2 separate regions of the Homo sapiens genome follow, and region 1 is linked to region 2. The links come from fine-mapping of genetic effects on gene expression. A gene starts in region 2. The other region holds a variant in brackets. All regions are shown on one strand. Distances are between the middles of the regions. Region 1 overlaps PTPRT (protein tyrosine phosphatase receptor type T). Region 2 holds the start of PTPRT (protein tyrosine phosphatase receptor type T).

What was found. PIP is the estimated chance that this variant, and not a neighbour inherited with it, causes the effect.
Region 1: its variant is the best candidate, but not a certain one, in a credible set for the expression of PTPRT in pancreas (GTEx, PIP 0.68).

Annotation. Positions count from the first base shown.
Region 1 is chr20:42,571,631-42,576,997 of GRCh38, forward strand. All of the region lies in intron 7 of PTPRT (protein tyrosine phosphatase receptor type T), which reads right to left. Among named protein-coding and RNA genes, the nearest start is that of PTPRT-AS1, 390 kb to the right of the region's middle. The variant T/C (reference allele first, on the strand shown) is at 2,665.
Region 2 is chr20:43,187,014-43,192,380 of GRCh38, forward strand. PTPRT (protein tyrosine phosphatase receptor type T) reads right to left here and starts at 2,893. Exons shown (of 31, transcript NM_007050.6): 1 at 2,633-2,893. The coding sequence starts at 2,720. It overlaps PTPRT-DT (PTPRT divergent transcript), which reads left to right and starts at 3,052. Exons shown (of 3, transcript NR_186414.1): 1 at 3,052-3,237.

The sequences.
Region 1 (5,367 bases), 620 kb before region 2:
GAAGTGGAATTACTGGATCAGAGGATGTGACTGTTTTGAGAGCTCTTGACTAGATGTTGCCAAACTGCTATCCAAGAAGGCTGAGGGGCAACTTTGGTAGATGATCCAGGAAGAGGACCCCAACCCCCACTGCCCCGGGGCAGTCATTCACTTCTTTCCATCTTAGTTTCCCACACCCTTGTCCAAGCCATGCCCTCACCTCCCCTGGAAAGAATGCCCCAGCCCCTTCACTGGTCTTCCCACTTCGCCTCTTGGCAGCCACAGCTTGTGTCCCACATATCAGCCAGGAGAATCTCATTAACACCTGAGTTAGAGCCTGGTGCTCTCCTGTATTCGTTTGAGCTGTTATAACCACATACCATAGACAGGGTAATTTATTAGCAACAGAAATTCATTGCTCACAGTTCTGGGGACTGGGAAGTCCAAGACTGAGACTCCAGAATATATGATGTCTGGCGAGGGTCTGTTCCTCATAGATGGTGACTTTATGCATGCTCACAGGGCAGAAGAGGCCGGGGGCTCCCTCAAACCTCTTTTACATGGGCACTAATCCCGTTCATGGGGGTGGGATCCTCCTGACATAATTGCTTCCTAAAGGTCCCACCTCTTAATACCATCACCATGGGGTTTAAGTTTCAAGATATGAACTTTGGGGTGGACACAAACGTTCAGACCATAGCACATCCTTCATTGTTTTCCCATTACTCTTTGCATAAAGAAAACTATCCCTGCCCTGGCCTCTGCTGGCCACCCTCTGGCCTCACCACCCACCAAGAACCCTCACCCCTTACCTTCTCTGCTGTGGCCACATGGGTCTTCCCCCAGCTTCCACCCACAGGCCATGCTCTCATTTACTCCAGGGCCCTGGCACATGCCTGGAATGCTCTCCTCACATTCTTGTTGGCCCCAACATCTCTCCCTTGTCCTTTCGAGCCCATATAAAATGCACCTTTCTCAGGAAAGCCCCCTTCACCTCTCAGGCAAGGTCCACTTCTCATGCATTCCCATACTGTATTCTTCTCCTTCATAGCACTCATCATGATTACAATTAATTAACTTTTTAATTAGTTGTTTAGCTTTTAATCAAAGTTTGGTATCTATCCAGGAACTTGCACATAGCACAATCTCTATGAACTTTCACAAACTGAACACACCTGTGTAAACACCACCTGGAGCAATAAAACATTCTCTGCCTTCTCGGGCATCCCAGAAGCTCACCCATACCTCTTCCAGTTACTAAGTCCCCTAAGGCAATGCCTACCTTGACCTCTAACACTAGAGATAAGTTTTTGTTTTTTTTTTTTTTTAACATCTAAACACAATTGATAGCCTTTTTTTTTTTTGGCATATATGTCTCCATTAAAATATAAGCTCCATAAGAGCAGGACCCATGTCTGTTTTGTTTGCCATCCTATTCCCAATGTCCAGCACCTTAGCTCAACAAATATTTGTCAAATTACAGAATGAATTAATTAACAACTAATTAATGTTGTAGGAATTGGGCAACAAGGTGTAGGAGGTACAGTGAGCAGGGTGCCCACAGGAAGATGGAAGTAAGAGAAACAAGGTGCATCTAGCCAAGGAGGGGCCAGCAGGAAGGTCAAAGGAATGCCCCTGGCTGCACAAGCCCAGCCTGCACTGGGCAAGGCAAGCACCCTGGCCACTAGGGGCCTTCCACAGTGGCATGAGTCCACCCCCCACCCACCCAACCTCCAACTCCCTGCCCATGATGGTCTGGATAAGATACCCTTCCTCCATAGATAGGAGCTTTTCTGGAAGGACACAAGCTGTTGAGCTCCAGAGAGGGATTGTCCTTGGCAATAAAGAGGGGGCATTAGACAGTGTTGTGGTGAGAATAAGCTGGCATCTGTTGGTCTCAGACTGGGAGAAATTGTAGCCTGTAGCCCAAGTTTGAATTGAAGGACACTGACTGGGTGACTACCCCATGATCTAAGTTCTGATTTCACCAGATCCTGCTTGCCTCCCTACTTTCCCTCCTTCCTTCCATTCAAACTTCTGTCCACACTTATCAGAGCAGGTTCTCCTATGTGGGGGATGATACAACCCCGTTATCAGCACAGTGGTCTCAAAATGGCAAGACGGACCCTTTCTTTCTTTCTTTTTTTTTTTTTTTTTGAGATGGAGTCTCACTCTGTCACCCAGGCTGGAGTGCAGTGGCGCAATCTCAGCTCACTGCATGCTCCGCCCCTCCAGGTTTAAGCACTTCTCTGCCTCAGCCTCTGGAGTAGCTGGGATTACAGGCCCGTGCCACCACGCCCGGTTAATTTTTTGTATTTTTAGTAGAGACGGGGTTTCACCATCTTGGCCAGGCTGGTCTTGAACTACTGACCTCGTGATCCACCACCTCGGCCTCCCAAAGTGCTGGGATTACAGGCGTGAGCCACCGCACCCAGCAAGATAGACTCTTTCTATGCTTCTGACTGAGGGCAGTTTGGGCTCCCAAGTTGGAGAAGCATTGAGCCTGCCTATGTGGGTTGCAGAGCCAGGCAGAGCATTTGACATTTCCGGTTGGAGGGCCATGGCAGCCAGTATTTTATTTAAAACACTCAGAGTTTACAGTCAAAAACCCGTGAGTCTGAACAAATTCTTTAACTGGCAATTCCCTGCAAAGGGCTCTGCAGTTTGCACTATTTCAATCATGTG[T/C]TCAATCAAAAGGGTATTGGAGACGTAACTGTACATTATCACTATTGACATTTCCCAGCCTACTCCACTTTGGTTAAAAAGAAAGTGTCCAAAGATGCCACTTAATAACTTTGGGTATCATGAAAATGTCACTTTGGCAAGCAGAAAAGTGGATTTACACACCCACCAAAGGTGACCTGCTTAGAAAGAGACAGCAGGGATTGTTTCCTGGCCTCCAAAAGAGACAGTGCACCCAATGTCCCTGCAAGTTACCATTGCTCCAGGGGATGGAGGGAGGGAGAGGAAGAACAAAGGGCAGTGGCAGCCCAGGTGCTACTCAGCCCACTGGAGCAGGCTCGGGTGGACAGAAAGGCTTCTAGGGCTTCAGCAACAAAGCTGGGGTGGGGGTAGGGGTTGGGCGAAGAAAGGTGATATGGTTTGGCTCTGTGTCCCCACTCAAATCTCATCTCGAATGGTAATCCCCACATGTCGAGGGAGGGACCTGTTGGAAGGTGATTGCATAATGGGGGCAGTTTCCCCCTTGCTGTTCTCATGATAGTGAGTTCTCAAGAGATCTGATGGGTTTATAAGTGTTTGGCAGCTCCTCGTTTGTTCTCTCTCTCTCCTGCCATCCTGCCATCATGCCATCATGTAAGACGTGCCTTGATTCCCCTTCATCTTCTGCCATGATTGTAAGTTTCCTGAGGCCTCCCCAGCCATGCAGAACTGTGAGTCAATTAAACCTCTTTTCTTTATAAATTACCCTGTCTCTGGTAGTATGTTTATAGTAGCGTGAGAATGGTCTAATACACAGGGAAAAAGGACCGACTGGTGCAAAGCTGATAAAATGACTGCATCCGGTTCTGGAGTCCCAGATGGGGGTAACACACACATAGAAAGACGCAGGAAGGTGGGTCCCAGCCAAGAGACCCGTCCCTTGGTCAAGGTGATGGGGGGCAGCAAGTGATCCTGTGGCCCGGTGAAAGCAAGGTCAAGGTTTTGGAAGGACCGTCAAGTGTTAGCAGAGCTACAGCTGGACAGAGAAGGAAGAAGAGGGGCCATTTTCCCAGAGGAGAAGGCTGTGAAGAGCCAGCCAGGCAAAGTGGCAGGGCTCAGTTAAAAACCGGTAGAATGGCAGGCTGAGGCATGGCTGCAAAGACTGGGTTATCCCCTTCTCCACTTCCTGGGTTTCCATCTCAGCAACACGCACCAACCTCCACAATCTAGGTGGCAACCTCAAATCTTTCTGTAACCTCACTTCCCACAGTGCTTTGCACCTAACCCAGGGGCAGACAAATATTTTCTGTAAAGGACCAGACAGTAAACATTTTAGGCTTTGCAGGCTCTGTTTATTGGAACATTCACCCTACTCAACTCTACCGTTGTAGCGTGAATGTTCCGAGAAAACTTACAACACTAGGCAGTGGGCCACATTTGATGCATAGAAAACTGCTTGCCAACCCCTGATGTAACAGATTGCCAAGGCCTGTCGATGTTACCTTCTAAAGATCTCCTGAACCTGCCCACTTTTCTCCAGCGCCCACACCCTCGCCACACTAGTCCAGCCACAATCTTCTGTTGCCTAGATGACCCCAGCAGCTCCCTCCCCGCCTGCCTCCTCCATTCTGCTTTCACTTTTGTCTCCTCTACCCAGCAGCCAGAGTGAGCATATAAAATGCAGTTCTGATCCTGTCACCTCTCTGCTTAAAACTCTTCAGAGGTTCACCATCGCTTCCAGAAAAAGATCAATACTCCTGACGTGGCAACCTGTCGAGACTCAGGACCGCTAGGAAATCAGCTCTTGTTTACCCCTCTATCCATTACACTACGATCCAGCTGGGGTAAGTGCCTGTTGGAGCATCTGCATGAGTTCTCCCTCCTGGGCCTTTGTCCCTAGATAATCTGGCAGGGGCGCACTTTCTCTCCATTAACAATTCCACCCTTCCCTCTCCTCATTTTGACTCATCTCAGTTTAGGCATCACTTCCTCTGAGCAATCCTCCCTGATGTCATGAGGCAGTGCTGAGTGCCTTCTCTGGACCCTCTGTTTACTTGCCTGTTAAATCCTGAACATCTGGAAGGGAGTCGTGTTCAGCAACATATCTACGCCTTGCAGCACGGTGCCTGGCCTGCAGCTGGTGTTCCGTAAACAGCTGCTGACTGACGGGATGCATCGGTGAGTCAATCAATTAACTCTCTCTCACAATAGGAGGATGAAGCTCAGAGAATATCCAATTGGCCATCCTTCCCCAGAGGCCAGAAAATGCTGTGGCTTGAGTTCCCTGGGGCTTTGCCTGCCCTGGTTGGGATGGCTTTCTGCCCCAGAGTTCTCTGGAACTTGCAAGTCTGGAGTTTTCTGACCCAGGAGTTATCTGTGTCAGAAAAAGAACCTGGCTTTCAGAATCTTCTGTGTATTATAAGGTGGACTAAGGTTTAGAAAGACACAAAGGAACTAATACGTTTACACATTTTCCTGGGTAAAAGCATAAGTAAATTCTCAATCATCTTTTCTTTAGTATGATTATTCATTTATTAATTTCTTCACTTATTTATTCATTCTACAAGTGTCCCCTGAGCTCCCAAGGGGTTTCTGCCCCTCAACTAGCTGCTTCATCCACAGAGATGGCTGGTACCCAATTCTTGCCTTACCGTCAGATGAGGAAGACAGTCCATTTTGATACAGTGTGGCAAATGCTATCATAAATGAATGGTCAGGGACAATGTC
Region 2 (5,367 bases):
TCTAAAGGTTTTTTGTTTGTTTGATTTTTACTATCATTCCTTCCAAAAACCGTCGTGGCTCAAGAAATATGTCTTAGAGTAAGGAAAAAGGAAATTGCCTTTTGATGACAAGCTTCCGCCCCGACTTTTGGACACTGAGACCAACATGTTACAGCAAAACATATTAGCCCAACTATGTTATGGATGTAACCTTATAAATTGAAATTGCTTTCAAGATTGGGAATTTTCAGATCAAAAGAACATGGAAAACACACTACTTAGTTTTAAAATGTATTTGTCCAAACTTGCCAAAAGTTTTAAATAAAATACTTTAAAGGAAATCAAGTTATTGTCATATTTATACTAGATTTGAAATACTAACAATTTCTGAATTTAGGAATAAAATAAGATAAGTCCATTTTTAAGTCAACATTTACAGTATTCTTGTTTTGACAAATACAGATGTTCATGAGGAACCCTGGGGAAAAAAAATCTAATTTAGATGGTCTAGTTGCCGTTAAACTGGAAAGGAGAGGACAGATATATACAGAAAATCCCCATTTCTACAAATGTGTGAGGCTTAGAATGCACCAGTTCTCCAATACAAGCTAATCCCATTCGTTTAAGGAGCCCCTGGCACAAAGGCACCCACTTGCTAAATATATGCTATATCGCAGGTTTGCAGAAACCACCCTGCCCAGGTAGACCCAAAAGAACCACAGATTTCTTCCCAAACCATATTCCAGGATTTCTTTTCTTTCTCCTGCATTCTAAAGAGCAAACAAAGAAAAGGTGCTCGCTCCTCACACTTCTCTAAATGTTTTAACAAAAGGCTGCTGAATAAACACATTACTCATTTAAAAATTGAAAAGAAGTTCTATTCCTGATATGAAAGCAACCAGATTTGCATTTTAATAGTTGTGGGCGAGCGCCACCTGGCGGGAGCATCCGGAACGGGCGGCGTTCAGCACTGGACAGCTTCCCGAGCCGGTACGGGTTTTACCGCTTGCTACCCAAGAACGATTCGAGACCCGTGATGGAATATTTTTGATCCTGTTTCTGCCGCGGGAACGTGAGTGGTATTAATGTGTGGTTGGCCGGTCATGCCTTAGAGGATATAAAATCTGAGTCACGAATCATGCCTGGATCCCCAGGACTGCCCCGGGCATCCTCCCTAGTACCCCTCCCTCCCCTAGCACACCTAACACACCCCCCAAAATGAGGAAAACAAGAATTGTGCACCATCTTTAGAATGGTGCTGTAGCTGTCCCTCTTCTCTCACTTGCTAATCCAACCTTTCAGCTTCACACACCTCAAAAGGAGTGTCTTCGTCACCCAACTTCCCAGCCAGGGAAACAGGCTGTCCCTTCACAGAAGTCGCCTATTCCGCTTCCATTTTAGTACCAAGCAAGGAAGGCTCTAAAGCATTTCCAACGGAATGTCCTTCCAGCGGCCCTTAACCTCAGACGCAGCTTGTGCAAAGACGCTGTACCTCCCCACAGGTTCGTTCTTTTGCTCTTTCTTTCTTCCTTTCCTTCTTTCGGTGAAATAATAAATGGGCACAGCTGTTGCTTAGCGATCCGAAACCAGCCTGTTCCTGCGTCCCACGGGCTGATCTCAGCCTGTCCCCGCAATCCCAGCCACCTCAGGCCGGCGTGGTTACACCAAAAGCAATCGGTGCTAAGAAACTTTAAGGTGATTTTGAACTTGGAAGTACACCTGCAGCACTCCCTTCTCTTCCCTCCGCCGCTACTCTTGGGGGGGGGGGGGCTCGGGGGTGGAAGCTGCCTGCGGTGGGGCTTGGTGATGTGTAAGACCCTGGACTGTGGTGCCCTCCAGCACCCGCCAACGTGCCTTTAGGAGCACGGCAGGCACCACCCCCCCGCCCCCGCTCCCCCTACTCTGGGGAACTACCTCTGCTCACCGCCTTCCCGTGGCCAAACCCAAATATGAGTTCCCCGAACTTTTCAGGAGCGGACGCGCTCACGGGTCAAATCCACTCCCCTCCAAGGGCCTTAACACGGGCGCCCAGCTACCTCGGAGAAAAGCCAGCGGGTAGGGCGGAGGTATTGCTCTCGGTCATCAACGCAAACATCCCCTCGGGTGCCTACAGCGGCCTGCTTAGGGGAGCAGCGTGTTCAGAGCAAATGGAGAGCTTCCTGTATCTCCGAGGAAAAAAGAAAAGCCGCCGCCCCGGCAGCCTCGGCCTGCTGGGGACCTGTCCTCCCCACTAAAAGCGCGCGCTGCCCGAGGAGCTGCCCGGGAGAGAACGCTCCACCCCGGGCGTCGGTGCCGCTCCTCGTCTCGCCGCCCCAAACACTCAAGTGGCAGATTCCGACAAGTGGGAGGCAGCAAGTGGAAATATTCGCAACAACCGCGGAAAGTTACTCCAGCCCGGGGGGCCGGCAGGAAACTGAAGCGGGGAACTTCGCCAAACGCGGGCTGCCGAGGGACGCGAGGGGCCGGGCTCGCTGGCCGGGGCGCGCGGGGACACTGCTTCCCGCGCCTGCAAGCTGAGACCCGGGTTCCGGCCATGGGGACCCGCGCCCCCGCGAGCCCACACAACTTTCTCCTCCGAGGGCCCCGCGGCTGGGGGCCCGCGCGCATCCAGGAGGGAGCGGGGAGCCCAGGGGAGCCGGGCGGGCGCACTCACCTGCGGCGCTCTGAGCCCGGGCGCCGGGCAGTGGCGGCAGCTGCAGCCTCAGGAGCAGGCTGAGGGCGAGCGCGGCGAGGCTCGCCATCCGGGCGGCGGCGGGCAGCTCAGCCCCTTCCCGCGGGGGCCGGGGCCGGGACTGGGGCGGGCGCGGGGTGGCCCCGCATCGCCGGCGCGGCCGCTGGCTGTGCGCGCGGCTGGCTCCGCTCGGGCTCCCGGAGCCGGCGCTCCTGCGTTCCAAGCCGAGGCGCGGCGCGAACTGAGGCGGGAGGCTGGGCGGGGGCGGGACGCGGGGGGCGGGGGGCGGTGTCCCCCGAGTCCTAACGCCGCCGCCGTTGCCGCCGCCGCCGCCGCCGCCGCCCGCCCGGGCGCTCCGCCTCGGCCGTGCACACACCCTCACGCGCACGCCCGCGCCTGGCACACGCCCGCGGCTGGCACACGCGGGCTCCCCCGCGCACCCTCTCCGGGGCCGACCAGCTCGGGCCGCTGGCACAGTCACGCGCGTCCACACATCACCCCCGCACCCACACGCCGGGCAGGGTCCTCGCCTCTTCGCCCCGCGCCGCGCCGCGCAGCCAAGCATCGTCTGCCCTGTGGGGGCGCAGGTACGGGGGCGGTGCGGGGAGGAGGAAGCTGCAGCAGCCGTTTGAACTCGGGGTGGGGAACAGGTGAATGGGGGTTCGGTGGCGAGAAGAGGGAGGGAGGGAGCAGCCCTCGCAACTCAAGATAAGGGGCCAGGTGAATTGCGAAAGCGGGTGGGGGCGTCTGCCCAAAGCTGGGGCAGGCGGCTGCTGGCCAGGGTCTCGGGCACACCCTGAGATGAGAATTTCATCTAAGAGCGCGCGCGCGCACACACACACAACCCACTCACACTCTTCTGGGCGCATCGCTGACCGCGCCACAATCGTCGTCCCCCTCAATTAGCCGCCCACCCCACCTTCTTCTTCACCCACATCTCTCTCTTGTCCCCACCACCACGCGGAAGGGGGCGCAGAAGGGGCATGAGGCATCCCCCCACCCCCTACAATTTTTCCCTGGCAGCCTTCCCTTTCCTTTTCTAGGGAGACAGAACCTTGTAGCTTTTTCCCTTTTCTTCTCGGTCTTAACAAAGACCTGGTTGGGGCTGAAAGCCTAAAACCATAGATCAGGGTTGGAGCTGTCCCTGGCAGCCCACGGCCCACAGCCTGGCTCTCTGCTGTCCTGGGAGGCAGCTGGTACCTGAGTCTTGGCTGGGGGTCTGAGATGTAAAAGCCAGGGGCAGGGATACCCAGAAATGCTTAAGGGATTCACACTTTGTGAACACTTTGCTACCTGGCCAAAGCCCTCCTTCTTCTGTGTCAGCACAGCCCCCCACCCCCATCCTTGTTGGGGTACCAGGGACTGGACTGGGGAGACTGTAAGTGAATTGTGAAAATCAAGCATGGCAGGGTTTCCAAAAGTGGGGAGCCCCAGGCTCTGGACCCAAGTTGGCATGGCAGAGAACACAGGGCGTCACTCTGTCAGTCCCCAGTTCCCAGTCCCCACTAGGTAAAGTGGCCCAGTTCCCTGGCATGGAAGCCCAATTTACAATCCCAGGCAAATTCTTCCACCCCTCTCCGGACCCCGACTCCCACCACCACCACCATGACCGTGACCACTTTCAAAAGCTGACGTGCTTGGACTAGCCTGTTGGACCAGCCAGTGCCTCCCACACTTGCCTGGTCAAAGAACTACCAGGAAGATTTCTCCAAGTCCTGCTTCCCAGACCCCTGCTGGGGAGAGTGGAATTTGGCAGGCCTGTCGGGGGTGGCCTGGGAGTTGAACCTTTTACAAGCTGCTTTGGAGATTAATAATTCTACCAATATTTATGGTGCATTTAATTGTGTGCCTTACTCTGTGCTGTTCTCTGGGGATACCACAATGCTATAGCCCTTAGGGACAATTGGAATGGAAAGATCCCTTCTGCTCAGAGCTGAGCTTCCAGCTGTTTGCTCCATCACTCACTCATTCTAACCCTGCCTTGGGCAGATGAGCAGTTAGGAAGTGTGCGAGGAGAGGCCTGACCCAAGACCACCACAAGCGACCCCAGTCATGGCAGATCCCAGGGGATGACCCGGGTGGGGAGATTTCTAAGCCACTAAAGAGCTTGGTGTCACACTTGTAACTTGTTGCCACTTTCTTGGGCTCCTGCCAATTCATCCCCTCTCTCAAGCTTTCTGGAAAACTATAAAATAGCAGTTCTCACAGCATCCTCAGAGCAACGCCCTTTGGCACCCCCCTGCACTCCTGCTTTAGGGATGTGATATCACTGCAGACAAATCCCCCAGGTCTGAATGGGGTTCATGTGGCCCCGAGGGGAAAAAAAAAATTCAGTAGTCACTGAGCTGGTGGAGTGGGACCTGATCCTGCACCAGGACTTACCTGCCCAGGTGCACCGTGGTCATGAACCGTGACCCTCTGTGCTTTCTAAACCTCCCTCTACTCCGAGAAACTGCCCCCTCTCCTTCAGTAGCACGTGCTGCCACCTGCTGCCCGGCCAGGCTCTGGCACCCACAGCACTGCCACGCTTTTGCACCGGCCAGTCCCTCTGCCTGGAAGCCCTGCACTGTATCATCTCCCTGGGAAACTCACACTAGCCCTTAGGGCTTCCCTTTGGAACTTTGGCCAGCGGGCCCTTCCTGCTCAAGGCATGTTCCCCAGCGCAGGTCACTGTGGTGGTGCTTTTTACATTGTGGAAATGTTGTCTCCTCTTCATG